Regions from separate parts of the Homo sapiens genome. Here all the other regions are linked to region 1. The links come from fine-mapping of genetic effects on gene expression. A gene starts in region 1. Each other region holds a variant in brackets. All regions are shown on one strand. Distances are from middle to middle.

Evidence for each region. PIP is the estimated chance that this variant, and not a neighbour inherited with it, causes the effect.
Region 2: its variant is the best candidate, but not a certain one, in a credible set for the expression of VSIG10L in whole blood (TOPMed, PIP 0.85).
Region 3: its variant is the best candidate, but not a certain one, in a credible set for the expression of VSIG10L in esophagus muscle (GTEx, PIP 0.86).
Region 4: its variant is the best candidate, but not a certain one, in a credible set for the expression of VSIG10L in whole blood (INTERVAL, PIP 0.64).
Region 5: its variant is the best candidate, but not a certain one, in a credible set for the expression of VSIG10L in whole blood (TOPMed, PIP 0.88).
Region 6: its variant is the best candidate, but not a certain one, in a credible set for the expression of VSIG10L in cerebellum (GTEx, PIP 0.83).
Region 7: its variant is the best candidate, but not a certain one, in a credible set for the expression of VSIG10L in caudate (GTEx, PIP 0.76).

The regions. Positions count from the first base shown.
Region 1 is chr19:51,339,655-51,343,720 of GRCh38, reverse strand. VSIG10L (V-set and immunoglobulin domain containing 10 like) reads left to right here and starts at 1,582. Exons shown (of 10, transcript NM_001163922.3): 1 at 1,582-1,636; 2 at 1,714-2,568; 3 at 2,995-3,288; 4 at 3,422-3,706. The coding sequence starts at 1,597. VSIG10L-AS1 (VSIG10L antisense RNA 1) reads right to left here and starts at 3,701. Exons shown (of 5, transcript NR_186316.1): 1 at 3,004-3,701; 2 at 2,547-2,655; 3 at 1,736-1,871; 4 at 1-33. RefSeq lists a silencer at 3,548-3,817.
Region 2 is chr19:51,420,244-51,424,309 of GRCh38, reverse strand. No RefSeq gene overlaps it. Among named protein-coding and RNA genes, the nearest start is that of SIGLEC10, 4.6 kb to the right of the region's middle. The variant G/T (reference allele first, on the strand shown) is at 2,213.
Region 3 is chr19:51,360,804-51,364,869 of GRCh38, reverse strand. All of the region lies in intron 1 of ETFB (electron transfer flavoprotein subunit beta), which reads left to right. Among named protein-coding and RNA genes, the nearest start is that of ETFB, 3.6 kb to the left of the region's middle. The variant G/A (reference allele first, on the strand shown) is at 1,805.
Region 4 is chr19:51,434,365-51,438,430 of GRCh38, reverse strand. No RefSeq gene overlaps it. Among named protein-coding and RNA genes, the nearest start is that of SIGLEC10, 19 kb to the right of the region's middle. The variant C/A (reference allele first, on the strand shown) is at 1,662.
Region 5 is chr19:51,429,298-51,433,363 of GRCh38, reverse strand. No RefSeq gene overlaps it. Among named protein-coding and RNA genes, the nearest start is that of SIGLEC10, 14 kb to the right of the region's middle. The variant A/G (reference allele first, on the strand shown) is at 2,008.
Region 6 is chr19:51,258,549-51,262,614 of GRCh38, reverse strand. All of the region lies in intron 1 of SIGLECL1 (SIGLEC family like 1), which reads right to left. The region is part of intron 2 of LOC107985327 (a long non-coding RNA gene); the gene reads left to right. Among named protein-coding and RNA genes, the nearest start is that of SIGLECL1, 9.5 kb to the right of the region's middle. The variant G/A (reference allele first, on the strand shown) is at 2,371.
Region 7 is chr19:51,078,872-51,082,937 of GRCh38, reverse strand. It overlaps KLK14 (kallikrein related peptidase 14), which reads left to right and starts at 51. Exons shown (of 6, transcript NM_001369775.2): 1 at 51-216; 2 at 302-363; 3 at 1,235-1,406; 4 at 3,236-3,489; 5 at 3,987-4,066. The coding sequence starts at 324. The variant T/C (reference allele first, on the strand shown) is at 1,948.

The sequences.
Region 1 (4,066 bases):
AAGCCTGGCCAACATGGCAAAACCCCATCTCTCCTAAAAATAACAAAAATTAGCCTGGTGTGGTGATGCACACCTATACTCCCAGCTGCTGCAGAGGCTGAGACGGGAGAATCACTTGAACCCGGGAGATGGAGCCTGCAGTGAGCTGAGGCACTCACTGGGTGACAGAACGAGACTCCATCTCAAAATATATATATATTACCAGTATTATTACTGGTGAGAACTGGGCCAGGGTAAGCTTAGAGGACTGGGAGCTGAGCAGAGGCCCTAAGCTCCACATGGGATGGTGGGAAAAGCTATCAGAAGGAGTCAATGGTCTGACCATCCTGGTCCCAAGTCCAGCTTCTCCCTCTGGCTGTGCAACCTCCTGCAGGTCCCTTGACCTCTCTGAGCCTAAGTCCCCTGGCCTGCAAAGTGAGTATAATGACACTCAGCTTATAGGGTGTTTAGAAGTGTTCAGCCTGATAGTGCATAGGAAACATTTAGCGTAGTTCCTGGCTCAAATTAAGTGGTAATTATGGTTCTTAATAAGGTGAGACCTGAAGGACAAGTTGTGGTTTAGCCAGGTTGGAGGGAGGTGGAGAGTGGGAGAGAGCATTCCAGGTAGAGGACTGGGAGGTGAGATGGGCGGGCAGGATAAGAATGGCAGGATGTTCAAGTGCTTGAGTGGGGGCTGTGCATGAGTTTGCTTTGAACCTTGGATGTCTCCAGAGGGCACTGGGGAGCCAGGGGAGGGCTGTGAGCAGGGGGAGGCAGGTTCAGCTCTGGGTATAGAAGGACCCTGGCAGGGAATGGAGGAGACTGGGCAGAGGAGGGAGACGGGGCAGGAAGAGAAGACAGAGCCTGGCCAGTGAGAACTAGGGGGAGGAGGGTTGGACTCAGATCGACAGTGGTGACAGGGAGGGAGGAGGTGGGAATGTTCTCCAGCATTTGCGAAGACAGTGAAGCCATCCTGGAGGTGTGAGGAAGTTTGGGTTAGAGGAAAGAGTCTGAGTTTAGCGGGACACAGGCCATGTGAGGGCCTCGGGGATGCGGAAATGCAGCTCTGGTCTCAGGATAGAGGCCCTGGCAGGAGATAGCACCTGGAGACTTGGTTCTGAGGGCAACAGAGAGCCGTGGGAGGGTTTGGAGCAGAGGAGGAGCAGGGTCAGATGTATCTGAGGCTGCAGGCAAGACAGAGTGGAAGGAGCCAGGAGGCTGGGGAGGAGGAAGCCTGCTCTGAAGCTGTGGCCATCAGAGGTGGGGCTCTCGGAAAGGTCACCTCACCCTCCTCCAGGAAGTCTTCCTGGCTTTGTCTCACAAATTTGCTCCCACATTTTTAGCTGGGAATGTTTTCTCCAGCTTCCCCCTGGGGGTGGGGAGGGCAGGGATCAGGCTGGGCCTCTCTGCAGATGGGACCAGCTAATGAAGAGAGTGGGATGAGGTGGGCAGCTCAGCCACCACACTGGGGTTGAGGATCTTGGCACCTCCCTCTGGGTCTGGCTCCCTTCCCCTCCCAGGAAGCTAAGCTACCAGTCCTGTTGGACTCGTCTGACCCGGGAGGGATGGGTGCAGTCCTGGGTCTCTCTCCAGTGTCCTTTCAGTGAGGCCAGCACCATGGACAACCCACAGGCTCTGCCACTCTTCCTACTCCTGGGTAAGTTCCCTGCTCAGTCCCTTCCCTGTCAGTCTCCCTCAGCAGCCTCCCCCAATGCCTTCCTCTCTTCTCTGCAGCCTCCTTGGTAGGGATCCTCACCCTCAGAGCCTCTTCTGGACTTCAGCAAACCAACTTCTCCTCTGCCTTCTCTTCAGACTCAAAGAGCTCTTCCCAGGGGCTGGGTGTGGAAGTTCCCTCCATCAAACCTCCCAGCTGGAAAGTTCCAGATCAGTTCCTGGATTCAAAAGCCTCTGCTGGAATCTCTGATTCCAGCTGGTTTCCTGAGGCCCTGAGTTCCAACATGTCTGGGTCCTTCTGGTCAAATGTTTCTGCTGAGGGCCAAGATTTGAGCCCGGTTTCCCCCTTCTCTGAAACCCCTGGTTCTGAAGTATTTCCTGATATTTCGGATCCTCAAGTTCCTGCCAAAGACCCCAAGCCTTCCTTCACTGTTAAGACCCCAGCTTCAAACATTTCTACTCAAGTCTCCCATACCAAACTGTCTGTTGAGGCCCCAGATTCAAAATTCTCCCCGGATGATATGGATCTTAAACTCTCTGCCCAGAGCCCTGAATCCAAATTTTCTGCAGAGACCCACTCAGCTGCAAGCTTTCCCCAGCAGGTGGGGGGCCCACTCGCTGTGCTGGTGGGGACCACCATCCGGCTCCCCCTAGTCCCAATCCCCAACCCTGGGCCCCCCACCTCTCTGGTGGTCTGGCGCCGGGGCTCAAAGGTGCTGGCAGCTGGGGGCCTGGGGCCAGGGGCACCTCTGATCAGCCTGGACCCTGCTCACCGAGACCACCTGCGATTTGACCAGGCCCGGGGGGTTCTGGAGCTCGCCTCTGCCCAGCTGGACGATGCAGGGGTCTACACGGCTGAGGTCATCCGGGCAGGGGTCTCCCAGCAGACTCACGAGTTCACGGTGGGTGTGTATGGTAAGTGGGCCCTGGCGTCCGGCGTGCAGGCGGCAGGGGCTGCTCTGCTCTGCCAGGCTTTGGGCAAGTCACGGTGCTGTGGGGTCCCTGGATAGGAGAAGAGGACTTCTGGGTTGAGGAAGGGAGAAAAAGAGCTAGAGGTCAAGGCAGGGGTGTCTGAGCAAAGGTGGACCTGGGATGGAGACTCCTGGGAGCCTGAACTCCCAGGTCTGAGGGAGGAGGAGGAGGCTAGGAGCCTCTTCTGGCGAACTCCTGGGTCCCGGAGAGGAGGTGTCTGGGGGCTCAAACTCATAGGTTTATGAGAGGAGAGGGATGGGGGCTGAGACTCCAGGGGCTTAGAGGGAGCAGCGGCTGGGGTTCCCTCTAAGGGGACCAAAGATGGGCTCCAGGACTGGGTGGGTCCTGAGCCCATTCTCCCTCTCCCAGAGCCCCTACCCCAGCTGTCGGTTCAGCCCAAGGCTCCAGAGACAGAGGAGGGGGCGGCCGAGCTCCGGCTGCGCTGCCTGGGGTGGGGGCCAGGTCGCGGGGAGCTGAGCTGGAGCCGGGACGGACGCGCCCTGGAGGCGGCGGAATCGGAGGGAGCCGAGACGCCCCGGATGCGCTCAGAGGGCGACCAGCTGCTCATCGTGCGCCCTGTGCGCAGCGACCACGCCCGGTACACTTGCCGCGTCCGCAGCCCCTTCGGCCACAGGGAGGCTGCCGCCGACGTCAGCGTCTTCTGTGAGTGGGGGATGCCTCGGGTCGGGGACAGGGGGTCCTTGGGGAGAAGCGGGCTGGGGACCCAGTCTCCGGGAGTCCTAGCGGCGTCCCAGGTGACCCTGACACTCGCGGTCCCGACCCCTCCTCCCTCCAGACGGCCCGGACCCGCCGACCATCACGGTCTCCTCGGACCGCGACGCCGCGCCTGCCCGCTTTGTCACCGCGGGCAGTAACGTGACCTTGCGCTGCGCCGCCGCCTCGCGGCCGCCCGCCGACATCACGTGGAGCCTGGCGGACCCGGCCGAGGCCGCGGTGCCCGCGGGGTCGCGCCTCCTGCTGCCCGCGGTCGGACCGGGCCACGCAGGCACCTACGCCTGCCTGGCGGCGAACCCGCGTACCGGCCGCCGCCGCCGCTCGCTGCTCAACCTTACAGTGGCGGGTGAGAGGCTGGAGCGGGAGTAGGGGAATGCCTGGGAGAGGGGCGGGGCCAGAACGAGGGCGGGGCTAGAGGAAAGGGGCGGGGCCAGCAAGGAGGAGCAGCATACCGGTGGGTGGGGCAGGGCCAGCGGGAGGGCGGGTCACCAAGAAGGAGCTGGGATACCCGTGGTGGGGCGGGCCAGCGCGGAGGGGCGGAGACACCTAGGATAAGAGGCGGGGCCAGAAAGAGGATAAGGGAAGGAGCCAAATAGAGTGGCAGGGATGACCAGGACTGACGGGCCGGCCCAGCACTGAGAGGGCGGACATTCCTGGGCATGGAACACTCGACAAAGTCGACAAGCGGAGTTAAATGGCAAAGAGT
Region 2 (4,066 bases), 81 kb before region 1:
ATGTTAGCCAGGATGGTCTTGATCTCCTGACCTCGTGATCTGCCTGCCTCAGCTTCCCAAAGTGCTGGGATTCAGGCGTTAGCCACTGCGCCTGGCCATTTTTTTGCATTTTTAATGGAGACAGGGTTTCACCATGTTGGCCAGGCTGGTCTTAAACTCCTGACCTCAGGTGAACTGCCCACCTCGGCCTCCTAAGGTGCTGGGATTACAGGTGTGAGCTACTGGGCCCAGCCTAATTTTAATTTTTACTTCTTGGTTGGAAGTTTGCATTTTTCACTGACTAATTTTAATATTTTCTGTTTGTCACTGAGTTTTAATTATTTGATTATTATGTCCCTTTCTGTGTGGAGAGCAGGAGTGTGTGTGATAGAAAAAGACAGAGAAGAGAAAGAGAGAGAGTGATATCTTGTTTCAAGTAGGTTGAGTATCTTGGATCTGTAAATTTACAGTTCTGGTCAAATTTGGACAATTGAAAGTGATATTTATGTAATTTTTTTCTGATTTTCTTCTCTCTATATACTGGACATTGTGATTTTTATGTGATTGGCTGCTTGATTTTGTTATATTCCATTAAACAGCATTGGTGTTTCTTCTTGAAAGTCACTTGCATTTAGGTTGACTTCTTTCTTTCTTTCTTTCTTTCTTTCTTTCTTTCTTTCTTTCTTTCTTTCTTTCTTTCTTTTTCTTGAGATGGATTCTTGCTCTGTCACCCAGCCTGGAGTGCACTGGTGCTGTCTCAGCTCACTGCAACCTCCGCTTCCTGGGTTCAAGCGATTCTCCTGCCTCGGCCTCCCAAGTAGCTGGGATTACAGGTGCCCGACACCATATCCAGCTGATTTTTTTGTATATTTAGTAGAGATGGGGTTTCACCATGTCGGCAAGGCTGGTCTCGAACTGCTAACCTTAGGTGATCTTCCCGCCTTGGCATCCCAAAGTGCTGGGACTACAGGCGTGAGCCACTATGCCGGCCTAGGTTGGCCTTTTTAAGGCTCTTTACCTTTCACCCTCTCCTGTGATGGACCTAGTGTTCTCTTTATTCCAGGGCTATTTTTATCTTCTTGGCTCTTCTTTTCCATCCACAGTAGGGGATCATTTCATGGGTAACTCATGTTTTGGGGAGCAAGAGTCCTGCTGTTCTGTAAATAACAGGAGAGTAAAAGAAAAGTTAACAGATGGGGGAAAATATCTGAAATGCACATATGTAACAGGTGTCAGATCACAGACAACTTAGGGGTTTGACATAAGGAGTTGAATCTTATTTTGGAAAACTAATGCTTGAAGTGAGTGTCATATCACACTCACACACCAGTAAGTCACTATTATATCTGACAATAAAGTGTTGCACTTGCAAAATTTTTCCTTCACTAGAAATTAGGGTGAATCCAAGTCTATCCTCTAGTGATATTTCACTCTTCTTGCCCTGCAACGTGTTATTCTGACTTGAAAAGGAAAGGACGGAGGCCCAGCTAAGAGCCCCTGAAATATACACGACCCCAATCCAGACAAAGCAAAGATGAATGACCTGAAAAGCCCCCAGGAGCGCATTTTCTTATGTGGACATCACATGCTTAATGTGCCTGGGTGGAAGTCATTTGGGAATAACGCTGTAAAGAGTGTGAATATTGCCGGGCGCGTTGGCTCACGCCTGTAATCCCAGCACTTCGAGAGGCCAAGGCGGGCGGATCACGAGGTCAGGAGATCGAGACCATCCTGGCCAACACGGTGAAACCCCATCTCTAGTAAGAAAAAAAAAATACAAAACATTAGCCGAGTGTGGTGGCGGGCACCTGTAGTCCCAGCTACTCGGGAGGCTGAGGCAGGAGAATGGCGTGAACCCGGGAGGCGGAGCTTGCAGTGAGCCGAGATCGCACCACTGCACTCCAGCCTGGCGACAGAGCGAGTCTCTGTCAAAAAAAAAAAAAGAGTGTGAATATTTTGAAGGGCTTTATATCTTGGGGAGGGTGGGTTTGGGATGAGAGAAGTGGAGTGACGATGGTGACTTCGTTTTTGCTTTAATGTGATTCCCCCGGAGGAGATCTTGTTCTAATGTGTGGCGAAAAGTAGCCTTTTTAGAGAGTACTGTCTGCAAACGTGTCCAGAGCCTGGGACTCGTTCCCTTGGGAGCCTCCCTTCTGCAGGACCATGGACAGCGCGGGCTCTGGGGCCCGAGGCTCCGCGGTGCCGCCTGCTCTGAAGGTGGAGCGCCCCCTGG[G/T]GGCGGCGTCCTGAACTGCAGCACAGCCCGAGGTGGGAGGAACCCAGGACCAGGTCCGGAGCTCAAAGGACACAAAGACGCTGGTCAGGGAAGGTCCAGATCGCCCTTCTTCCGACAAAACCTCCTGGGCTCCCTCGGGGTCTCAGCTGCAGCCACTCGTGGGCTCTCCATCCTCTCCAGGACCCTGGCCCTCGCCCCTCCCTCCTCAGGACGCGGTCCTCACGCCGCACCTGCGCCCCCCGGGGCGAGATCCTGCCCCGACCCCTGTCAGACACCCCCGCCTCTCCCTCCCCCACCTCCCACCGTCCCCGCCCTTCCTTCCAGCGCCCACTTGTGCCCTCGTGCAGCTCCGGGGTCTGGAGCCTGGGTGGGGCTTCCTAAACCCCTCCGTGTGGAATTATGGAGGAAGAGCAGGCGCCTAGCCCCTGCTGAATGAAGGAGAGGCGGGTGCGGGGGTGGGAGGCTGGTATTGAGGGAGCTGGTTTTGGAGGGAAGCAGCTCAGGGAAAACCCGAACCTTCTCAGGCCAGAAAACAGACTTGAGGCTGCCCAGAAACCAGTCCCGGGGCCCCAGGCAGCCTCTCCAGTCCTGTCTGACCAAGGCTGGGAGGGCGGCTTGGGTAGGAAGGGCTGGGAGCAAGTCGGGGCGTCGGGGGCTCTGGCCTCGCTGGAGAAGGGGACGTGGTGAGGAGGCCACAGAAACCACAGGAACTCAGAAAAGTGAAGAGGGGGGAATGGGAGGGGGCAGCGATGTGGAGAAACCCGCGGGAGGAGGAAGACGGTGCCGCTCTCCTGGCTCCTGTCGGCTGATCCCATGGGTGTGAAATGTTCAAAGGCAGAGGTGGGGCTGGGCCCAGGCTGGGGGCCCTAGAGATCATCAGCTCCTTAGGGACCCACCTCCACCAGGACCCAGGCACCTTTCCTCCCCTCACTCCTCCCTGGGAGAGGCCCTTTTCTGAGCTCTGTGGAGAGGAAGGTGTGATGTGTCCCACCACAAGAGCTCCCCTGCGGGAAGGAGGCTGGTGTCCTCAGAGAAGGCCCAGATTAGGTCACAGGGAAGCAGGGATCAAAGGGAAGGTGAAGCTGGGCTTGGTGGCTCACGCCTGTAATCCCAGCACTTTGAGAGGCCGAGGTGAGAGGGTCACCTGAGATCACGAGTTCGAAACCAGCCTGGCCAACACGGTGAAACCCTGTCTCTACTGAAAATACAAAAATAAGCTGGGCATGGTGGCAGGCGCCTGTAATCCCAGCTACTCGGGAGGCTGACGCAGAATCGTTTGAACCCGAGAGGCAGAGGTTGCAGTGAGCTGAGATCATGCCAGTGCACTCTAGCCTGGGTGACAGAGCACAACCCAGTCTCAAAAAAAAAAAAAGATAAAAATAAAATTAAAAATATGAAAATTAGCTAGGCGTGGTGGCAGGCGCCTGTAGTCCCAGCTACTCGTGAGCCTGCACCAAGAGAATCGCTTGAATCAGACAGGGAGCGGCTGCAGCGAGCCAAGATCATGCCACTGCACTCCAGCCTGGGCAACAGAGCAACACTCTCTCTCAAAAAAAAAAAAAAAAAAATGGGGAGAGGTGGATATTAGGGTCTGAATTGTGTCCCCCCTCCCCCCACCAAATTTCTGTGTTGAAGTCCCAACCTCCAGTACCTAAGAATGTGGCTGTACATGCAGACAGTCTTTAAAGAGATACAGTTGTTCCACTGTATTAGTTGGGGATTGGTTCCAGGATCCCCACCCCTTGGATACCAAAATCTACAATGCTCAGCTGCCTTATACAGTAGTGTTTGCGTGGGACCTCTGCACATCCTCCCATCTCCAGGTTACTTATCACACCTAATACAGTGTAATGC
Region 3 (4,066 bases), 21 kb before region 1:
AAACTGAGGCCTGTCAGATCTCCCAGCCAGTAAGTGGCAGAGTTACGATCGAAACCCCGGGCAAGTCTGGCTCTAGACTCTGCTCTCCCATCTCCCTCAATGCCCCCTGTCCTAATGATGCCTCTGGCAGCACATGACAGGGATGTCACCTGTAGCCCTTTTGAGACACATTCCTCTTGGGGTCCTGGGACCCAACACTTGGTTTCCTCCCTGCTCTGACTGTTCGTTACTGTCACATCTTTGGAGTCCTACAGCTCCCTGGGCCTCTTCTCTCCATCCCAGCCCTGGCCTTCCACGCCTGGCATGTCTGGGATTGGATCCGTCTCCCCCATGGTGCAGGCCCACGTTTGACTCAGCTCTGGTCCCAGCATCACTCAGCACAGAGCCTGGCACATGGATGTCTCTGGTGTGCTCAGGGAGAGAACAGAGGGGAAGCGTGAAGGCCGCGTTGAATCAGCTACTGTCCTTTCCAGAGGGTGCTGCCTTCCCCTCCCGCAGTGCCCCAGGGCTCCCTGCATTACATCCTGTCTCACTGGATGTGTCTGTTGATGTCCTTTTCAGAACAAATAAATGATTCAGACCCTGCCAGCTTCCTAAACACCAGATTAGACCTGGGTACTGTCCCACCCTCTTTCCCTTCTCCCAAAGCTGTCAGTTCTCCACCCCCCACCCTTCTTGCCCTATTGTCTCTTGGTGTCATTGTCTCACCTGGACCCTCACCCGGGTCCTCCCTCACTCCCAGTCTCTCCCTCTCAGCCCACCTCTACCCAGCCTTAGGGGCCTTTCTGCACCCAGAGCTCACCCTGCTCTCCCCTGCTCCCAGCCTGCCTGTGGCTCCCCAGCACCCTCAGGACAGAGTCGCAGCCCCTCTGCCTGGCATTTGGGATGCTTTGTGGTCCAGCCTCCTCTTCATGGTCTGCTTCAGCCGTCCACTTCCCTCCTTGGACCCTCCCTTACCCTTTGTGCTTCTGCCACTGTGACCTGCTCCTCCTGTCCTGACAGACCAGGCCGCGGCTTGCCCGTTCCATGCCTTCTTCCAGCACCACCCTCCTACCTCTGCTTTCTGTCCTTTGTCCTGCCCAACTCCAACTCATGGATTATATCAAAATCTAGTGATTCTCGGCCAGGCGCGGTGGCTCACACCTCTAATCCCTGCACTTTGTGAGGCTGAGGCGAGTGGATCAGTTGAGGTCAGGAGTTTGAGACCAGCCAGGCCAACATGGTGAAACCCCATCTCTCCTAAAAATAAAAAAATTAGCCAGGCATGGTGGCACGTATCTGTAGTCCCAGCTACTCGGGAGGCTGAGGCAGGAGAATCGCTTGAACCTGGGAGGCAGAGGTTGCAGTGAGCCAGGATTGTGTCCCTGTACTCCAGCCTGGGTGACAGAGCTAGACTCAGTCTCAAAATAATAATAATAATAATTTAGTGATTCTCCCTGGCATCGCCTCCTCCAGGAAGCCCCTGACCCTACACCCTCAGGTTGCCTTGGTATATCCCTGGGGGCTTCTGCAGTCCCTAGATTTGCTTCCATCAGCCCTCGCCAGACTGGATTGGGATCCTCTGTTTACCCCATGTTCCCCACTGCCCTACTCCATCATCCCCAGGCTGGTAGCTCCCTGCAGAGAGGGGCCATGTCTGATCCACCTCTGTTCCCAGAATCACGTGCTCACTCCCTGACCTCTTTCACCTCCTTTTCAAACATCACCTTCTCTGGGAGGACTTCCCTGCTTGCCTCCTTAAAATCACAGGCCCCAGGTCCCTGTGTTTTGCTGTGTTTTCCCCTATACTTAGCAACTAGAAAGG[G/A]AGAGGAAAGTATGTTTGCTAGAGATGAAAGTTCAAGGAGCCAACCTAACTGAGTGGAGGGAGTGACTCACATTCTCCATGAAGGAGGTGGGAGCAGGGGCACCCTCTGAGAGCCCAGCTTGTCCCCAGAGGGAAGCTGGTGTGGACACTTTGTAATCCACAGTGTTGTTTACTTATTGATTGCTCTGGTGTCTGTCGCCCCTTCTGGAATTTGAGCTCCAGGTGTGGGGGAGACAGTTTGATGTGGTCACTGCTTCCTGAGACAGTGGGTTCACTACTAGAATAGTGCAGACCTCAGACTCCAAGCCCAGCGCCTGCGTCCACTTCCTGCTGTGTGACCTTGAGGAAATTGCTTCACCACTCTAAGCCTCATTTTTCTACTCTGTACAATGGGGATGATGGTACTATCTACTTTATTGAGTTGTAATGAAAATTAAATAAGCCCTTGGAACAGTGCCTGGCACACAGTGGTTTGTTTTGTTTTATTTTTTGAGACGGAGTCTATCTCTGTTGCCCAGGCTGGAGTGCAGTGGCATGATCTCAGCTCACTGGAACCTCCACTTCCCAGGTTCAAGCAACTCTGCCTCAGCCTCCTGAGTAGCTGGGATTACACGTGTGAGCCACCACGCCTGGCTAATTTTTGTATTTTTAGTAGAAACGAGGTTTTGCTATGTTAGCCAGGCTGGTCTAGACCTCCTGACCTCAGGTAATCCACCCGCCTCAGCCTCCCAACGTGCTGGGATTACAGGTGTGAGCCACTGTGACCAGCTGCAATAAGTGTTTTTATTGGGAGTAGTAGTAATGGATGTTTAGTTAGTCATTTATTCAAAACATAACAAATGCTGTGCTCAGAGTGTATTCGTGTGTGTGTGTGTGTGTGTGTGTGTGTGTGTGTGTGTGTGTATGTGTGTCCGGCTGTGTGTATGTTTCTGGGTATGTGCGTGTATCTAACATTTTAATAGGTATTTGGCAACTCAGTAACACCCTGTCCTGTTCAGGGGCACATTTTACAGGAAGCTGATGAAGCTTAACCTTCAGGGCCTCTTTCAAGACCCCAGGAGAAAGGCTGGGCCTGGTGGCTCACGCCTGTAAACACACACTTTGGGAGGCTGAGGTGGGTGGATCACGAGGTCAGGAGTTCAAGACCATCCTAGCCAACAGAGTGAAACTCTGTCTCTACTAAAAATACAAAAATTAGCTGGGCATGGCGGCGCGTGCCCGTAGTCCCAGCTACTCGGGGGGCTGAGGCAGAAGAATCGCTTGAACCAGGGAGGCGGAGGTTGCAGTGAACCGAGATCGTGCCACTGCACTCCAGCCTGGGTGACAGAGGGAGACTCCGTCTCACAAAAAAAAAAAAAAAAAAAAAAACCCAGGAGAGGCTGGGCAATTTTGTATTCATTATCTGGGATTCATTTTCTTAGAGATGACCCCACAGGATAGAAACTCCAGGCCCAGAAAACGTGTTTCCATCTCGGGGCCCAACCCCGACCAGCCACACCCTCTCGTCTGGGAGCGCCTGGTGTTTCTTCAGGTTTTCCTCTTTGGGCTCCACGCACTTGCCCCTCCTGCTCTCAGCAAGGCCACCTTGTCTGACAGGGCACACGTGGGGCTCACATGTCACCTCAGGGACGAGTTCTCTGTCTGCCCCCCGCCGAGTTAGTGATCTGTCACTGGGGTGGCTCCCTGGCCTTGGCTGTCCTGCTTGCTGAGTGCCCTAGCACGTGCCCAGGGACTCGCTTGACAGAAAAGCCTAGAGGACAGAACCACACAAGTCCTTGAGCTGTGTCAGGGGTTCAGGAAGAGCTGTCGAAAATCACTTTATAAAATCCCTCTTGGGCCGGGCGTGGTGGCTCACACCTGTAATTCCAGCATTTTGGGAGGCCGAGGTGGGCGGATCACCTGAGGTCAGGAGTTCGAGACCAGCCTGGCCAACATGACGAAACCCCATCTCTACTAAAAATAAAAAAATTAGCCAGGCGTGGGCCGGGCGCGGTGGCCCACACGTGTAATCTCAGCACTTTGGGAGGCTGAGGCGGGTGGATCACAAGGTTAGGAGATTGAGACCATCCTGGCTAACACGGTGAGACCTTGTCTCTACTAAAAATACAAAAAATTAGCCAGGCGTGGTGGCAGGCGCCTGTAGTCCCAGCTACTGGGGAGGCTGAGGCAGGAGAATCGCTTGAACCCAGAAGGTGGAGTTTGCAGTGAGCCAAGATCATACTACTGCACCCCAGCCTGGGCAACAGAACAAGACTCTGTATC
Region 4 (4,066 bases), 95 kb before region 1:
AGGGGGCGCCCTGATCAGGGCAGGGAATGTTGAGTTGGATACACAGCCATAAGGGGGTGTCATGGGGCTGTGGGAAGTCCACGGACTCTGCCTCAGAAGGGAAATTACTTGATCTCTGTATGCCTCAGCGTCCTCATCTGCAAAGTGGACATCAGAGCTCCTACATTTATTAGCCTGAGAACAAAAACCAGGCAGAATAAATGAACAACCACAGCAGCAACAACAAACAAGAACAAGAGCCAAAAGCAAACAGAGAGATGAGCCCTTATATCATCGGACCCTGAAATCCAGCCACCGTTGAAGCCAGGTCTACCCCTCTGATTTCCAAGACAACAGAAATCAATGCTTTTTTTCATTAAAAGCCAAAAAAAAAAAAAAAAGCATGCTATAACATTGAATAGAAACAACTATGATTTTGAATGTGAATATTAATTATACTCTTGTGGTTCCTGGGCATTGCCTGATGCATGAATTGTGGGAGAGGCAATGAGAGCTGCTACAAAGCCCTATGGAGATGGAGATCATGCAGCAAATGGCCAAGGGCCATGAGCCTTAGAAAACCTGTCCTGGGGTCGGGCGCGGTGGCTCACGCTTATAATCCCAGCACTTTGGGAGGCCGAGGTGGGCGGATCACAAGGTCAAGAGATGGAGACCATCCTGGCCAGCATGGTGAAACCCTGTCTCTACTAAAAATACAAAAATTAGCTGGGCATGGTGGTGCGCGCCTGGAGTTCCAGCTACTCGGTAGGCTGAGGCAGGAGAATCGCTTGAACCAAGGAGGTGGAGGTTGAAGTGAGCCGAGATCGCACCACTGCACTCCAGCCTGAGTGACAGAGTGAGACTCCGTCTAAAAAGGAAAAGAAAAGAAAAGGAAAGGAAAAAAGAAAGCCATACACAGTGGCTCACATCTGTAATCCCAGCACTTTGGGAGGTCAAGGCAAGTGGATCATTTGAGCCCAGGAGTTGGAGACTAGCCTGGGAAACATGGCAAAACACCATCTCTAAAAAATAGGAAAAAAGAGAAAACCTGTCCTTATAAATTATGATGGCATCTCTACATGCAAACCTGTCTCCAGAGAAGGCACATTCCCATCCGCTCAATGCTGCTCATCCTCCTTAAGGAACTGAATAAAGCTGGGCATGATGGCTCACACCTGTAATTCCAGCATTTTGGGAGGCCAAGCTGGGAGGATTACTTGAGGCCAGGAGTTTGAGACCAGCCTGGCCAACATAGCAAAACCTCATCTCTACCAAAAATTCAAAAAACTAGTGGGACGTGGTGACACACGACTGTAATCCCAGCTAGTTGGGAGGCTGAGGTACAAGAATCTCTTGAACCAAGGAGGTTGAGGCTGCAGTGAGTCAAGATCATGCCACTGCACTCCTGCCTGGGTGACAGAGACTCTGGCTTGAAAAAAAGAAAGAAATTGAATGAGCTTTTTGCCCAGTGAGGAAAGATTTCTTGTATGTAAATTCATGTGCTCTTCCTTGTTCATCAAAAGTTATTTTCTGTACACTTCACATTCTCATTGATTACTAAGAGAAATTCCTCGTACATATCAAGCTTAATTAGCTTGTACTCTATGCCCGAATATCCCTATGTGTCTCACCATGGGGTGATTCCCTGTCCACCTTACCTTTTGAGCTTAAATCTTCCTTGG[C/A]GAAATCAGAATAACCTCAAATGAGAGCATAATTTCCTACTAATTCCATGTGCAGCCTCATATTTTCTCTGTTTCAACTTCAAAGTGTTATTTATTTTAGTTCCGAAAGGATGTGTTTCTTCATATTTTCATTTAGAAACAAGGAATAGAATCTAATTGTTGGACAAAAGTCAGAGATGGAAATTCTTATAAAAAATCCTCCTTTCTTTGTCAACAAGCCCAATGTACCCTGAGAATCATTCTTATCATGGATATCGAGTGTGGGAATAGGTCAATGGGGGATTGAACCTTGAACTTCTGAGGGTTTGAACCCAGAAGTTCAAACTCCAGTCAACCTATTCGCTCATAAAAACATGGAGGAAAGAACTGGATGTGGCTCCTCGTGGCTGTCGGGAAGATGCTGTTGGAGCTTACAGGATGGAGGTGTTGCTCTCCCTTTCAGCTGCAGGAACGGCATGAGCCTTGAGCTGGGGAGACCTCACATTGCACGAACATTGCTAGCCAGAGAATGAAGATGGCTCAGGCACCTGCAGCCCACCATGCGGAGAGCAAGAAACAGCACCCTGAGGGTCACATTGGATATCAGTGATGTGCTGATCTTGACCTTGAGTTAGGAGATGTTCCCAGATTCCCCACTGCCTGGGCCAAAAATTAAGCAAACGTGTTTTTTTAATAAAACCCTTCTTTTCCAGATTAAGCTATCGGTTTTCATTTCTGTTCCTTGCAATTTAAAAAAATGAGATTATCGAAAAAATGAGCAGAGGCTTTGCTGTAAGAAATTTCTATATAGATTTTTTTTCCGCATGATTATTTGTTGATCTAAACTCATGGCATGGGAGATGACAAGGTTTCAGTAAAATGCCTGTTATGAACTGCATGTTTATGTTCCCCCAAAATTCATATGTTGAAGCCCTAACCACCAATGTGATGTATTTGGAGATGGGGCTTTTTGTAGGTAATTATGTTACATGGGGTCATGAGGGTGGGGACCCACTATGGAATTAGTGCCTGATATGGTTTGGCTGTGTCCCCACCCAAATCTCATCATGAATTTCCACGTGTTGTGGGAGGGACATTGCGGCTGGTAATTGAATCATGGAGGCAGGTCTTTCCTGTGCTGTTCTCATGATAGTGAATAATTCTCACAAGATTGATGGTTTTAAAAAGGGGAGTTTCCCTGCACAAGCTCATCTCTTGTCTGCCGCCATATGAGACATGACTTTCACCTTCTGCCATGATTGTGAGGCTTCTCCGGCCACGTGGAACTGTAAGTCCATTAAACCTCTTTCTTTGGTAAATTGCCCAGTCTCAGGTATGTCATTACCAGCAGTGTGAAAACGGACTAATACAGTGCCCTTATAAGCAGAGACCCCACAGAACTTGCTGTCTCTCAACCATGTGAGGACACAGTGAGAAGGTGGCATCTACAAGCCAGGAAACAGAGCCTCACAAGAAAACAAATCATCTGACAACTTGATCTTCTAACCTTGGACTTCTAACCTCCAGAATTGTGAGAAATAAATTTCTGTTGTTTATAGGAGGCTTAATTTATAGTATTTTGCTATGGCAGCCCAGACTAGCTAACACAGTGCCCTAACCACATGTATTCCATGTGGCTACAGTATTCTCTGCACAGTGGCCAAGTATGGTGGCTCATGCCTGTAATCCCAGCACTTTGGGAGGCTGAGGCTGGTGGATCACTCGAGGTCAGGAGTTCGAGACCAGCCTGGCCAACATGGTGAAACCTGGTCTCTACCAAAAATGCAAAAGTTAGCTGGGTGTGGCGGCGGGCGTCTGTAATCCCAGCTACTCAGGAGGCTGAGGCAGGAGAATCACTTGAACCTGGGAGGCGGAGGTTGCAGTGAGCTGAGATCGCACCACTGCACTCCAGCCTGGGCAACAGAGTGAGACTGTCTCAAAAAAAATTATACAAAGACACTTTATTTGTAAGGTAATATTTAGAAGTTCAAGGAGCTGAGACTGTATTTCTTTGGGTGGCCATTATTCAGCTTGCTGAGCTGTCCATGTGATCTCTTATGCATTGGAACTCTTGTGCATTGCTGATGGGAAAGTTAAATGGTGAAGTTGCTCTAGAGAGTAGTAGTGGGGTTCCTCAAAAAAATTAAAAATAGAATGATCTTATGATCCAGCAATTTCACCTCTGGGTATATGGCCCAAAAGATCAAAAGCCGGAACTTGAGCATAGTTTTATGCATCTGTGTTCACAGAAGCATATTCACAGTAGGTAAAAGGGAAAAGCAACCCTGCTATTCCTAAAAAGTGAATGAATAAACAAAGTGTATTGTATACATGCAATTGAATATTACTCAGCCTTAAAATAGAAGGAGAAGCTGGGCTGGGGCATGGTGGCTCACGCCTGTAATCCCAGCACTTTGGGAGGCCGA
Region 5 (4,066 bases), 90 kb before region 1:
TGTATGATTCCACTTATATGAGGTGTGTAGAGGAGGCAAATTCACAGACACGGAAAGTAGAGCCATGCTTGCCAGGGGCTGTGATCAGAAAGAAATAGGGGGTTTTCACCTCTTTGATGCAGTTTCAGTTTGGGAAGGTGAAGAAACTTCTGGAGATAAATCATAGTGATTCATAACAACGTGAGTGTACTTGGTGCAACTTCTCTAAACACTGAAAAATAGTTAAAACGGTAATTTTTTTCTTCTGTATATTTTACCACAATTAAGAAAAAAGCTACTGAAGATTTCATAGCCACCTCACCAAAAAAGAAAAGCAGATGGCGAACAAGGCCGTGAAAATAGCCTCAATATAATTTGTCATTAGGTAATTGTAGAATAGAAGAAGAATGAGGTAGAATTACATACCTAAGAAAAATGACTGAAAAGTACAACAAAGGTAACAAGAAATTTTAAAATATGTGGATGATATCACATGCTAGCAAGGATGTGAAGTGATCAGAGCTCATGTCTACTGCTGGTAGGAATACAAAATGGTATATACACTTTGGAGAATAGTTTGTCAATTTTGTATAAATTTAAACTTACACTTGACCAAGTGTACGTCTGACCAAGCACTCGACTCCTAGGTTTTTACTCAAGGGAATTAAAAACTTATGTTCACACGCAGAAAGTTGAATGGAATGTTTATAGCAACATTATTTTAGAGTCACCAGAACCTGAAAACAGTTGCAATGCTCCGCAAATGGCAAATACATGCAAAATGAGAGACCATGAAAACAATGGAGCACCAGTCAACAATTAAACTAAAATGACAGATTTATACCCAGCCCCATAGATGAGCCTCAAAAGCATTATGCCAAGTAAATGAAGCCAGATTTTAGAGGATACATTTTGTATGATTCCATTTATATGACATTCTATAAAAAGGCAAAATGGCAGGGATGGAGAATAGATCCGTGTTTTCTCAGGGACTAAGTGTAGAGGGAGGATTGACTACCTAGAGTCAGCAGAGGGAGGAAATGTTCAGGTAATGACACTTTTCATTGTCTTCACAGCGGTTGTGTATATAACTATATGCATCGGTCAACCCACATAAAATTACATATGATAAAGAATGAATTCAACCATATCTAACTTTAAGTAAATTTTTAAAAATTAAACATAAGATGCCACTGCACTGTCACTAGAACTCTTAAAATATAAAGCATAAGCTGGGCACAGTGGCTCACGCCTATAATCCTAACACTTTGGGAGGCCAAAGAGGAAGAATTGCTTGAGGTCAGGAGTTCAAGACCAGCCTGGGCAACATGGTGAGACCTCATCTCTACAAAAAATACAAAAATTAGCCGGGCGTGGCAGTGAGCACCTGTGGTCCCAACTACTCGGGAGGCTGAGGTGGGAGGATTGCTTGAGCCAAGGAGGTGGAGGTTGCAGTGAGCCGAGATGGTGCCACTGCACTCCAGCCTGGCGAGAGATTGAGACTCCGTCTCAAAAGAAAAAAAAATACTAATTGTTTGCAAGAATATGGACAAGTGGGAGCCCCTTTGCACTGCATGTAAAATGGTGTGACCCTGTGGAAAACTCTTTGGAATTCTCTCCGAAAGTTAAGCCTAGAAATACAGTGTAATCCAGCCATCGATTCCTAGATATGTTCCCAGAATTGAAAGCATGAACTTAAACAGATACCTATACATCAATGTTCATAGCAGCATTATTTACAAGAGCTAAAAGGTGGGGAAAAAAAAAACTCGCGTCCATTGACTGATAAGTGGATAGAAAAAAGGTTCCATATCCATAATATGGGATATTCTTTAGCCTTAAAAATTGAATGGAACTGATACATGCTATAACATGGGTGAACCTTGAAACAACATGCCACATGAAAGAAGCCACACATAAAATGACAAATAGTATATAATTCTGCTTATGTAGCCTTACCTAGAATTGGCAAATTCATGGAGACAGAAAGTAGAATTGCGTATCAGAGGCTGGGGAACAGGGCAAGGA[A/G]GAAGGGTGATTGTGCAAATGGTGCAGAGTTTCTGTTTGGGATGATGAGGAAATTCGGTAAATAGTGGTTGCACAACATGGTGAATGTGCTTAATGTCACTGAATTGTACCCTGTAGAATGTTACAAATTGCAAACTATATGTTACATATTGTATAGTCAGGTCTAGCACCGCTATAAAGAAATACCTGGGACTGGGTAATTCAGAAAGGAAAGAGGCTTAATTGGCTCAAGGATCTGCAGGCTGTACAGGAAGCATAGCAGCCTCTGCTTCTGGGAAGGCCTCAGGACACTTACAATCATGACGGAAGGTGAAGGGGAAGCAGGCAGGTCTTACAAGGCCAGAGTAGGAGAAAGAGAAAGAGTAGGAGGCTGGGCACGGTGGCTCACACCTGTAGTCCCAGCACTTTGGGAGGCTGAGGTGGGTGGATCACTTGAGGTCAGGAGATCAAGACCATCCTGGCCAACATGGTGAAACCCTGTCTCTACTAAAAATACAAAGAAGACAATTAGCCAGGCATGGTGATGCATGCCCGTAGTCCCAGCTACTCAGGAGGCTGGGGCAGGAGAATCTCTTGAACCATGGAGGCGGAGCTTGCAGTGAGCTGAGATCACGCCACTGCACTCCAGCCTGGTGACAGAGCAAGACTCTGTCTCAAAAAAATAAAATAAAATAAAATTTATCATCGATATACATACGTGTGTGTGTGTATAAAAATGTAGCACATATAGGGTTTGCCCTGTCTGTGGTTTCAGGCATCCACTGGGGGTCTTGGAAGCTATCCACTGTGGATGGGGGACTACTCTAGAGTAAATCTTTATAAAGTGATGACAAGAGATGATGGGGAAAGAGGATGATAAGAGTATGACAATTCCTCCAATAATTAAAAATAGAATTCACATAGGATCCAGCCACTCCACTTCTGGTCTACATGAAAAGAAGTGAAAGTGGGAACTTGAGGGCCAGGCATGGTGACTCACGAGTATAATCCCAGCACTTTGGGAGGCCGAGACAGGCAGATCACCTGAGGTCAGGAGTTTGAGGCCAGCTTGGCCAGCATGGTGAAACCCCATCTCTACTAAAAATAAAAAAATTAGCTGGGCATGGGGGCAGGCTCCTGTAATCCCAGCTACTCGGGAGGCTGAGGCAGGAGAATCACTTGAACCTGACTGGCAGAGGTTGCAGTGAGCCAAGATCATGTCATTGCACTCCAGCCTGGGCAACAGAGTCCCAGAGTCCGTCTCAAAAAAAAAAAAAAAAAGTGGGAACTTGAATAGATATTTATACTCCCGTGTTCATGGCAGCATCATTCGCCAGAGCCAAGAGGTGGATTTCTGGAGAGGCAGATGAGTAAGCAAAAGGTGGTAAAATCATACATTTGAACCTGTCAGCCTTAAAAAGAAAAGAAATTCTGACACCTGCTACCACAAGGCTGGGCCTTGAGGACATTATCCTAAGGGAAATACAGTCATGAAAAGTCAAATACTGCACAGTTCCACCTACTGAGATTTCTAAAGGAGTCATATTCACAGAAACAGTGAGTACAGTGGTGTTTGCCAGGCACCCAGGACAGGGAAAATGGAAAGTCGCTGTTTTGTGGGTACAGAGTGAATTTTGCAATATGGAAGAGTTCTGGAAATTGGTTGTACAACAGAATGAATATGCTTCACAGAACTGAACCGTACACATAAACATAATGACAATGGTGATGTTTATGTTCTGCATTTCCTTTTTACCAAAATTAAAAGGTATTTGAAAGGGTAAGAGCTGATTGCAGGTAGAGAAGAGAAGTTCACAGGACAGAGCCCCAGGAGAATCCAATGAGGAAGACGCACCTGAGAACCCGGCTGTGTCAGCCTCCCCGCTTATTCCTATGGACGTCCCTTTACCGTGGGATCCAGACCCCATTTCCCCACAACAGTGGGGCTCCTGGACCCCAGAGGCTGCATTGTGTTGGGACCTTGTTTCTCTCACTGCACCGGCTCCCCTCCATCAAGCTTAATAACTCGCAGCTGCATAATTATGTTCATGGTTTATTGTCTGCTCCCTGCACGGGAGAG
Region 6 (4,066 bases), 81 kb after region 1:
TTTTTCTAGAACAGTGCTGTGTGAAGAAATATAATGTGACCTATAAATGTGGACTACATGTATAATTTTAAATTTTCTAGCAGCCACATTAAAAAGGAAGAAATGGGTAAAATTAATTTTAATGATGTTTCATTTAACCTAGTGAAAGAAACCTAGGTTATTCACTAGGTTATTCATATTGAACCTAACCCAATATTTCAACATGCAATCAACACAAAATTGTTAAGATTTGGTACATTCTTTATACACTCTTCAAAATCTTGTATATATTTTACACTTACAGCACACTTCAATTCAGACTAGCCATAATATAAGGGCTCAATAGCCATATGTAGTTAGTAGCTACCACATTGGTCAGTGGAATTCTTTAATACAACATAGGAGAGTATCTTGGTAAGTTTTAGGTAAGGAAATATTTCTTTAAAAGGGCCAAAAAGCACTAGCTATGAGGAAATATGGATAAAATGGACTGTATCAGAATTAATTTCTGCATCAAAAGATACCATTAAGGAGGACAAATGCAAGTTGCAGGGCTGGAGAACATACTTGCAACACATACAACGTGCTTGCATCCAGAACATAGCAAGGATAAAGGGGGTAATGAATGGTGTAGTACATGAGTGGAGTGTTTGGGGTGTTGTTAATGTTCTATTTCTTGACCTCAGTGGTGGTTACACTGGTCTGCTCCCTTTGTGATAATTTGAGTTGTATACTTACTATCTGTATTAATACTTCTCTGTATAAAATTGTACTTTGATTTAAAAGCTTGTTTGAAAATAAAGACAGAGAAACAAACAGAAGGGATACAAAAGAGAATAGAACGGTTGGGACAAGTAGAAATCATGTACCTAGATGTTAGATTTAAACTCCAATACATCAGTGATTTAACTAAATATAAATGGCTTAAATTATCCAGTTATGAATCTAAGATCATCATATTGGAAAAAAGAAGCAAAGCCAAACTCCATGCTGTTTACAAAAGACACAACCAAAGCATAAGTGTAAAGGACAGTTAAAAAACCAAATGGGCCGGGAGCGGTGGCTCATGCCTGTAATCCCAGCACTTTGGGAGGCCGAGACGGGCGGATCACGAGGTCAGGAGATCCAGACCATCCTGGCTAACACGGTGAAACCCCGTCTCTACTAAAAATACAAAAAATTAGCTGGGTGTGGTGGCGGGCCCCTGTAATCCCAGCTACTCAGGAGGCCGAGGCAGGAGAATGGCATGAACCTGGGAGGCAGAGCTTGCAGTGAGCCGAGATCATGCCACTGCACTCCAGCCTGGGCGACAGAGCAAGACTCCGTCTCAAAAAAAGAAAAAAAGAAAAAACCAAAGAATGAAAACATACACCAAGCAAATACCAACCAGAAAGCCAGGTAATGTAGACATACCTACATTAACATCCCATAAAGCAGACTTTAAGCAAAAGGCATTACCAAAGATAGAATGGCATATCTCCTAATGATAAGCTGACATTAACAGGAATAAAGTATATATTTAAAATTTGTGTTTGCCTACTAACATAGTCCAAAAATATATAAAGCAAAAAATCTACAAAAATAAAAGGAGAAACAGACATCCACAATAGTAGTGTGACATTTTAATCACTGTTCTCTCAGAAACTGACAGAACAAACAGACTATTGGAATATATAAAGATTTCAACAACTTGATCAGCAAATTTGACCAAAAATATATAGAGAATACTGCAATCAATAACTGCAGAATACAATTTCTTTGTAAGCACACAGAGAACGTTTACAGAAATTGGCCACAGCTGGATCATAAGACAAATCTTAATAAAATTTCCATGAAAATATTTAAAATCTCATTAATAACCAGCAAAATGCCTGTTAAAACCATCAGATACCAGTACATATCCAAGACAATATATCAAGTCTTGGTGAGAATGTGGTACTCAACTTTCACACACTATTGGTGGAAATATAAATCAGGGCAACAAAGTTATTTATCAAAGCAGAAGATACACATACTCTATGACCCTCAATTCCACTCCCAGATGTATACTTTATAGAAATGTTTGTGCATATGTACGCCACAAAGGAATGCAAAAATGTTTACAGTGGTATTATTTAAAAATAGCTAAAAAGGTAAACAATCCAAATGCCAGTAAACAGAGAATTTTAAAAAATGAGATACTACACAGCAACAAAAACCTATGAGCTAATGCTAGATGCAACAACATGGACCATTCTTACAAATAAAATATTGAATGAACAAAGCCAGACACAAATAAGTAATAATGTATGAGCATTTCTTTAAAATTTGAAAAAAACCGGGCAAAATCAAGTGTTTAAGAACGCACACACAAGTAGTAAAAATCCTTTAAAAGTTGCCAAGAAATGTCCA[G/A]CATAAAAGGTAGGATATTAATTGCCTTTTTGGGAGGAAGAGGTCTGTTTCTCTGTTTATTTTATCATTTGTAGGGGGTATGAACAGGTCTTTTGAGATACTGGCTATAGTGAATTCCATAAGGCTGTACCCTATATAGGCATCCTTTTAATAGTACAGTTTCCCATTGCCCATCTGCCTGACCATATGGCCAGGCCATTGGCCACTGCCCATGAATTGGTAAAAACCCAAATGTGGAGGCAGTTCAGCCCACTGAAGTGACTTGTTTTTGCCTTCCTCAGTATGAGTGCCAGTCTTCCAAACAGGATGTTATTAATTCACTTTGGAATTGCCATCCATAAATCAAACCGCTCTTAGTTGGTCAATCAAGAGCTATTAATAGACATCATTCAAGTAATAATAGGATCTCGCAGCTCTTCAGTAGGGAAAAAGCCACCTGTTCATAAATATAACGAGGACCTCCTTGCATTTCCCTGGTAGCATGTTCCTGTATAAACAATTTCCATTTTATTACGAGACTCTTTTGGGCATGGCCTTCCTTACTACAGTGTTTTTCCAACATGACAAACACATCATGAGGATTTCAGGTGTCAGGATTATTATATCCTTCAATGATGGGGCAGACTCAAAGCCCAATAGGCAGCTAGTTGTCTCTCCATTGGAAATTTTCTGGCCCCAAATCCCAGCATTCACCACTGGGTGGTGCTCACTGGCCTTAGCTCCAGTCTGCCTAAATAAAGCAAACGTTAAGCTTCTAACATGTTTTGTCCACCAGATATCCTGTACTGTTTCAAATTAACAATTAGTGTGGGCTTGGGCAATCTTATTGGTTCCTATTTAGCATATTCAATCAATATTGGTTGAAGGGAAGATTTACATGCCTTCTGTTTCATAATAGTACGTAGGGGAACTCTTCCATAGTTGGACACAATATCTTTCCTCATAATACATTTAGGTAAATACATTCACATAACATATTTACATAGTCTGTCCAAACATTCCAATTTTCATCCAAAGTTTCGCCTGAATCTCATCCACTTTGTAATCCTATGTCTTCGCAATCTAACCATAGATGCTATTAGAATTTCACCAACCTTTTGGAATGCAGGTATAAGACTCCCACATGAGTCCCAGAAATATCTCTTATCCATCCCCTGACTATTTTACTACTAATATGCATATGACTTTGGGTCTTCAGTTAGGGGTCAGGCCAAGCAACCCAGGCCCTTTTGTCATTTATCTTGATTAGATCACATGTTCGTCCCCTCAGGAGATCTGAGGTCAGATTTCCCATTGTCATGTTTGCCTTCTGGCTTCTAAAATTCCTCCAAACTAGGGTAAATATAGCAGACTTGATGGGGGACCTTCAACACTGGAGGGCAAGTCTAGGTTCTCACTGCTCCACCTAATTTCTAAGAGTGCTCCACTGAGACCTTTGTTTAGACTCCCTCAATGTCCACTTAACTCATCTCATTTCTTAATAACTGTTTATAAAGATTTCCACCCTCTTGGAAATGTTCGTCTTTTCTCACTCTCTGGTGAACCACTCTAATTTTCTTTGCCATCTGTCATTTCAGCCTAACTTTTCCCTTTAGCCACAGCCCTGAGGCTAGCAGCTGTAGCTCAGGCTGGCCAGAGCCCAAGATTGGGCCAGCATCAGGATCCGCCTCAGCCACTTTCATTTTAACGATTACAG
Region 7 (4,066 bases), 260 kb after region 1:
GGCCAGCTGTCCTTACCAGGGATAAAAGGCTTTGCCAGTGTGACTAGGAAGAGAGACACCTCCCCTCCTTCCTTCATCAAGACATCAAGGAGGGACCTGTGCCCTGCTCCACATCCTCCCACCTGCCGCCCGCAGAGCCTGCAGGCCCCGCCCCCCTCGTCTCTGGTCCCTACCTCTCTGCTGTGTCTTCATGTCCCTGAGGGTCTTGGGCTCTGGGTAAGTGCCCCTTGCTGTCTCTGCCTCTCAGCCCCCGGTTCTGTTGAAGGTTCCTTCTCTCTCACTTTTTCTCTGCATTTGACAGGACCTGGCCCTCAGCCCCTAAAATGTTCCTCCTGCTGACAGCACTTCAAGTCCTGGCTATAGGTAAGAGAACGGTTGGGTATGACACAAGGGGGTCCCCTGGAGACTCTGAGAAGAGATGGGGATGGGTCCTTGGGGCCCCTGGATGCTCATGGTGACCTCATAAGAAAGAGCAGGGAGTGGTTTGGGGGTCATGGTGGGGGAACGTGCTGGAGGCCTAAATTCCTAGTTGTGGAGGTGCTAGGGAATTGTGGGGCCGGGGAGAGAGGTGTTTATAAGGTCTGGTGCAAAATACATAAGGAATCTTAGGGAACTATTAGGTCCTGAGTGGGTCATAGCAGAAAGATCACGGGGCTCTACCTGACTGTGTTAGGAAAGAAACAATGTCAGAAAGATGTTTTGTTGTCAGAGGGAAGGTGGAGAAGGATGATGGGATGGCGGGATCGTGGCATGGGGTGGCGGGATCGTGGCATGGGTGTGTGAGGTGGATGGGGGCAAGTGTGGGGCAAGAGATGGCGGATCCTTGGGGTCCCACTGAGTGGGAACGTTGGGGAGGAGACAGGGAGGTCCTTGAATGTGTTGGGGAAGGACTCATTGGGGGGAAATGTGGCATATTTCGAGAAGTGATCACAGAAATTATGGGAGCATAGAGCTAAGGGTCGTAGATGTAGCAAGGCCCTGGATAAGGTGGCCACGGCACAAAATAAGAGATGCTACGGAGGTGACTTGGGAGGTGAGTCAGAAAGCTCTCCGTGCTGGGGCAATAACGGGGTCAATATTGGGCATGTCTCACCCTGGGTGGGACAGATAGAGGCGGGCAGTTTAGGGGTTAGACCAAAAGGAAGGGGATTTGTCAGTTTTGGAATCCTACAAACTTGTGGAGTGGAGAGTGTTTGCTCATCTACTTTCCCCACCCAATCCTGTCCACTCCTAGCCATGACACAGAGCCAAGAGGATGAGAACAAGATAATTGGTGGCCATACGTGCACCCGGAGCTCCCAGCCGTGGCAGGCGGCCCTGCTGGCGGGTCCCAGGCGCCGCTTCCTCTGCGGAGGCGCCCTGCTTTCAGGCCAGTGGGTCATCACTGCTGCTCACTGCGGCCGCCCGTAAGTGACCCCCTCCCCTGTCCCTGTACCTAGTGAATTCCAGAGTCTAAAGCCCTAGAGCTGAGCTGAGAACCTGGATCTCTGTATAGAACCCAATGTAGTGGCTGGCTCCTGGTTTGAGGTCTAGAGAAGAGCCTGGAACAAAAACACAGCTCGGGATGTGGGCTCCTCCATAAATCTCGAACTCAGCATAGGTTCTGAAAGCAGATGGGCAGCTTGGAACCCATGGACCTGCTGAGAACCGAACATCTGATCCAGTGATTCTTCCAGAGGCCACACATTACATCGAGACCAAGCTTAGCCCATTCCAGATTGGTGGCTGAATTCAGGACCCCGTCTACATTCAGAAACTCAGGACACTACGTAGAACTCAGAGCCCAGTTCAGGACCTGCAGTCTAGCCATAAATCCAGAACTAGAACGCTGCTCACAGCTGGAACATACAACTCTAAGAATAGAGGCAAAACCTGGAGGCTGTTTCACACCCAAGGTTTAGTTCAGAGTCTAGTCTATAGCTCCGCTATGAGCAGACTTCAACCCAG[T/C]GTTTGAATCCCAGAATGTGGCGGGTGCGGTGGCTCATGCCTATAATCCTAGCACTTTGGGATGCTGAGGCAGGCAGATCACCTGAGGTCAGGAGTTCGAGACCAGCCTGAGCAACATAGAGAAACCCTGTCTCTACTAAAAATGCAAAATTAGCCAGGCATGGTGGCACATGCCTGTAATCCCAGCCACTCGGGAGGCTGAGGCAGGAGAATCACTTGAACCTGGGAGGCGGAGGTTGCAGTGAGTCAAGATCGCACCATTGCACTCCAGGCTAGGCAACAAGAGCGAAACTCCATATCAATCAATCAATCAATAAATCCCAGAATGCAGATCCTAATCAGAAGCCCCATATAAAACCTAGACCCCTCCTAAATTCTAGATCTGAACTTACAACCCAGACCCCAGCCAAGAGGTCAAAATGCCTATAAGCCATATCTATGCCATAAACAGGTCAGTCTAGAACCTAGAGATCAAAGCTCAGGCCAGAGTCTAGAATATAAAGGCCAGAATGCAAACCAGACTCTAGAATCTTGGATCCGGGCCATAACCTAGAGCTCCAACTAGAACCCAGAGCCCAACCTGAGGTCAAGGGCTAGGGCCAGAGTCCAGAACCAAGAGCCCTATAATCCAATATGAAACAGACCTGTAGAGGCTGGGTGCGGTGGCTCACGCCTGTAATCCCAGCACTTTGGGAGGCTGAGGCGGGAGAATCACTTGAACTGGGAGTTGGAGGTCGAGAGTGAGCTGAGATCGTGCCACTGCACTCCAGCCTAGGTGACAGAGCGAGACTCCATCACAAAAAAAAAATAAATAAATAAATCAAGTCATAATCCAGGTTCGATCTAGAATCCTGATCTTAGCATAGAGTCAAAAGTTTAAGATGTCTAGAACTCAGAACCCAGGCTAGAAACAGAATGGTGCCTACTCCGGAATATCAGTTCCGATTTAGAGCCTAGACTCATAACGCAGTTTCGCTTAGGACTCAATGCACCGAGCCCAGCACAGACCCTGGCACGGAGCCAAGCTCTCCCAATCATCACCTTCTTCCCAAGCCAGGAGCTGGAGCCCAGCCCAAGAGCGGAAGGAGAGGCAGCTGGGGCTGGGCCGAGAGAATGCCCTGGCCATGGGGAAGGGCACAGGAGGCCAAGAATGCTCGGCCTGCAGTTAGTGAGAAGCAGGCTAGACCTCGGGGAAGACTCGTCACCCGGCCAGGGAACCGGGCTGGAGGGTGGGGAGGAGTCTCTGGCTCAGACCCTGAGCAGCGCTTCTCTTGGGGGTCGTGGCCAGGATCCTTCAGGTTGCCCTGGGCAAGCACAACCTGAGGAGGTGGGAGGCCACCCAGCAGGTGCTGCGCGTGGTTCGTCAGGTGACGCACCCCAACTACAACTCCCGGACCCACGACAACGACCTCATGCTGCTGCAGCTACAGCAGCCCGCACGGATCGGGAGGGCAGTCAGGCCCATTGAGGTCACCCAGGCCTGTGCCAGCCCCGGGACCTCCTGCCGAGTGTCAGGCTGGGGAACTATATCCAGCCCCATCGGTGAGGACTCCTGCGTCTTGGAAAGCAGGGGACTGGGCCTGGGCTCCTGGGTCTCCAGGAGGTGGAGCTGGGGGGACTGGGGCTCCTGGGTCTGAGGGAGGAGGGGCTGGGCCTGGACTCCTGGGTCTGAGGGAGGAGGGGGCTGAGGCCTGGACTCCTGGGTCTCAAGGAGGAGGAGCTGGGCCTGGACTCATACGTCTGAGGGAGGAGGGGCTGGAGCCTGGACTCCTGGGTCTCAAGGAGGAGGGGCTGGGCCTGGACTTCTGGGTCTGAGGGAGGAGGGGCTGGGGACCTGGACTCCCGGGTCTGAGGGAGGAGGGACTGGGGGTCTGGACTCCTGGGTCTGAGGGAGGAGGGGCTGGGGGCCTGGACTCCTGGGTCTGAGGGAGGAGGTGCTGGGGCTGGACTCCTGGGTCGGAAGGAGGAGGGGCTGGGGGCCTGGACCCTTGGGTCTTATGGGAGGGTAGACCCAGTTATAACCCTGCAGTGTCCCCCAGCCAGGTACCCCGCCTCTCTGCAATGCGTGAACATCAACATCTCCCCGGATGAGGTGTGCCAGAAGGCCTATCCTAGAACC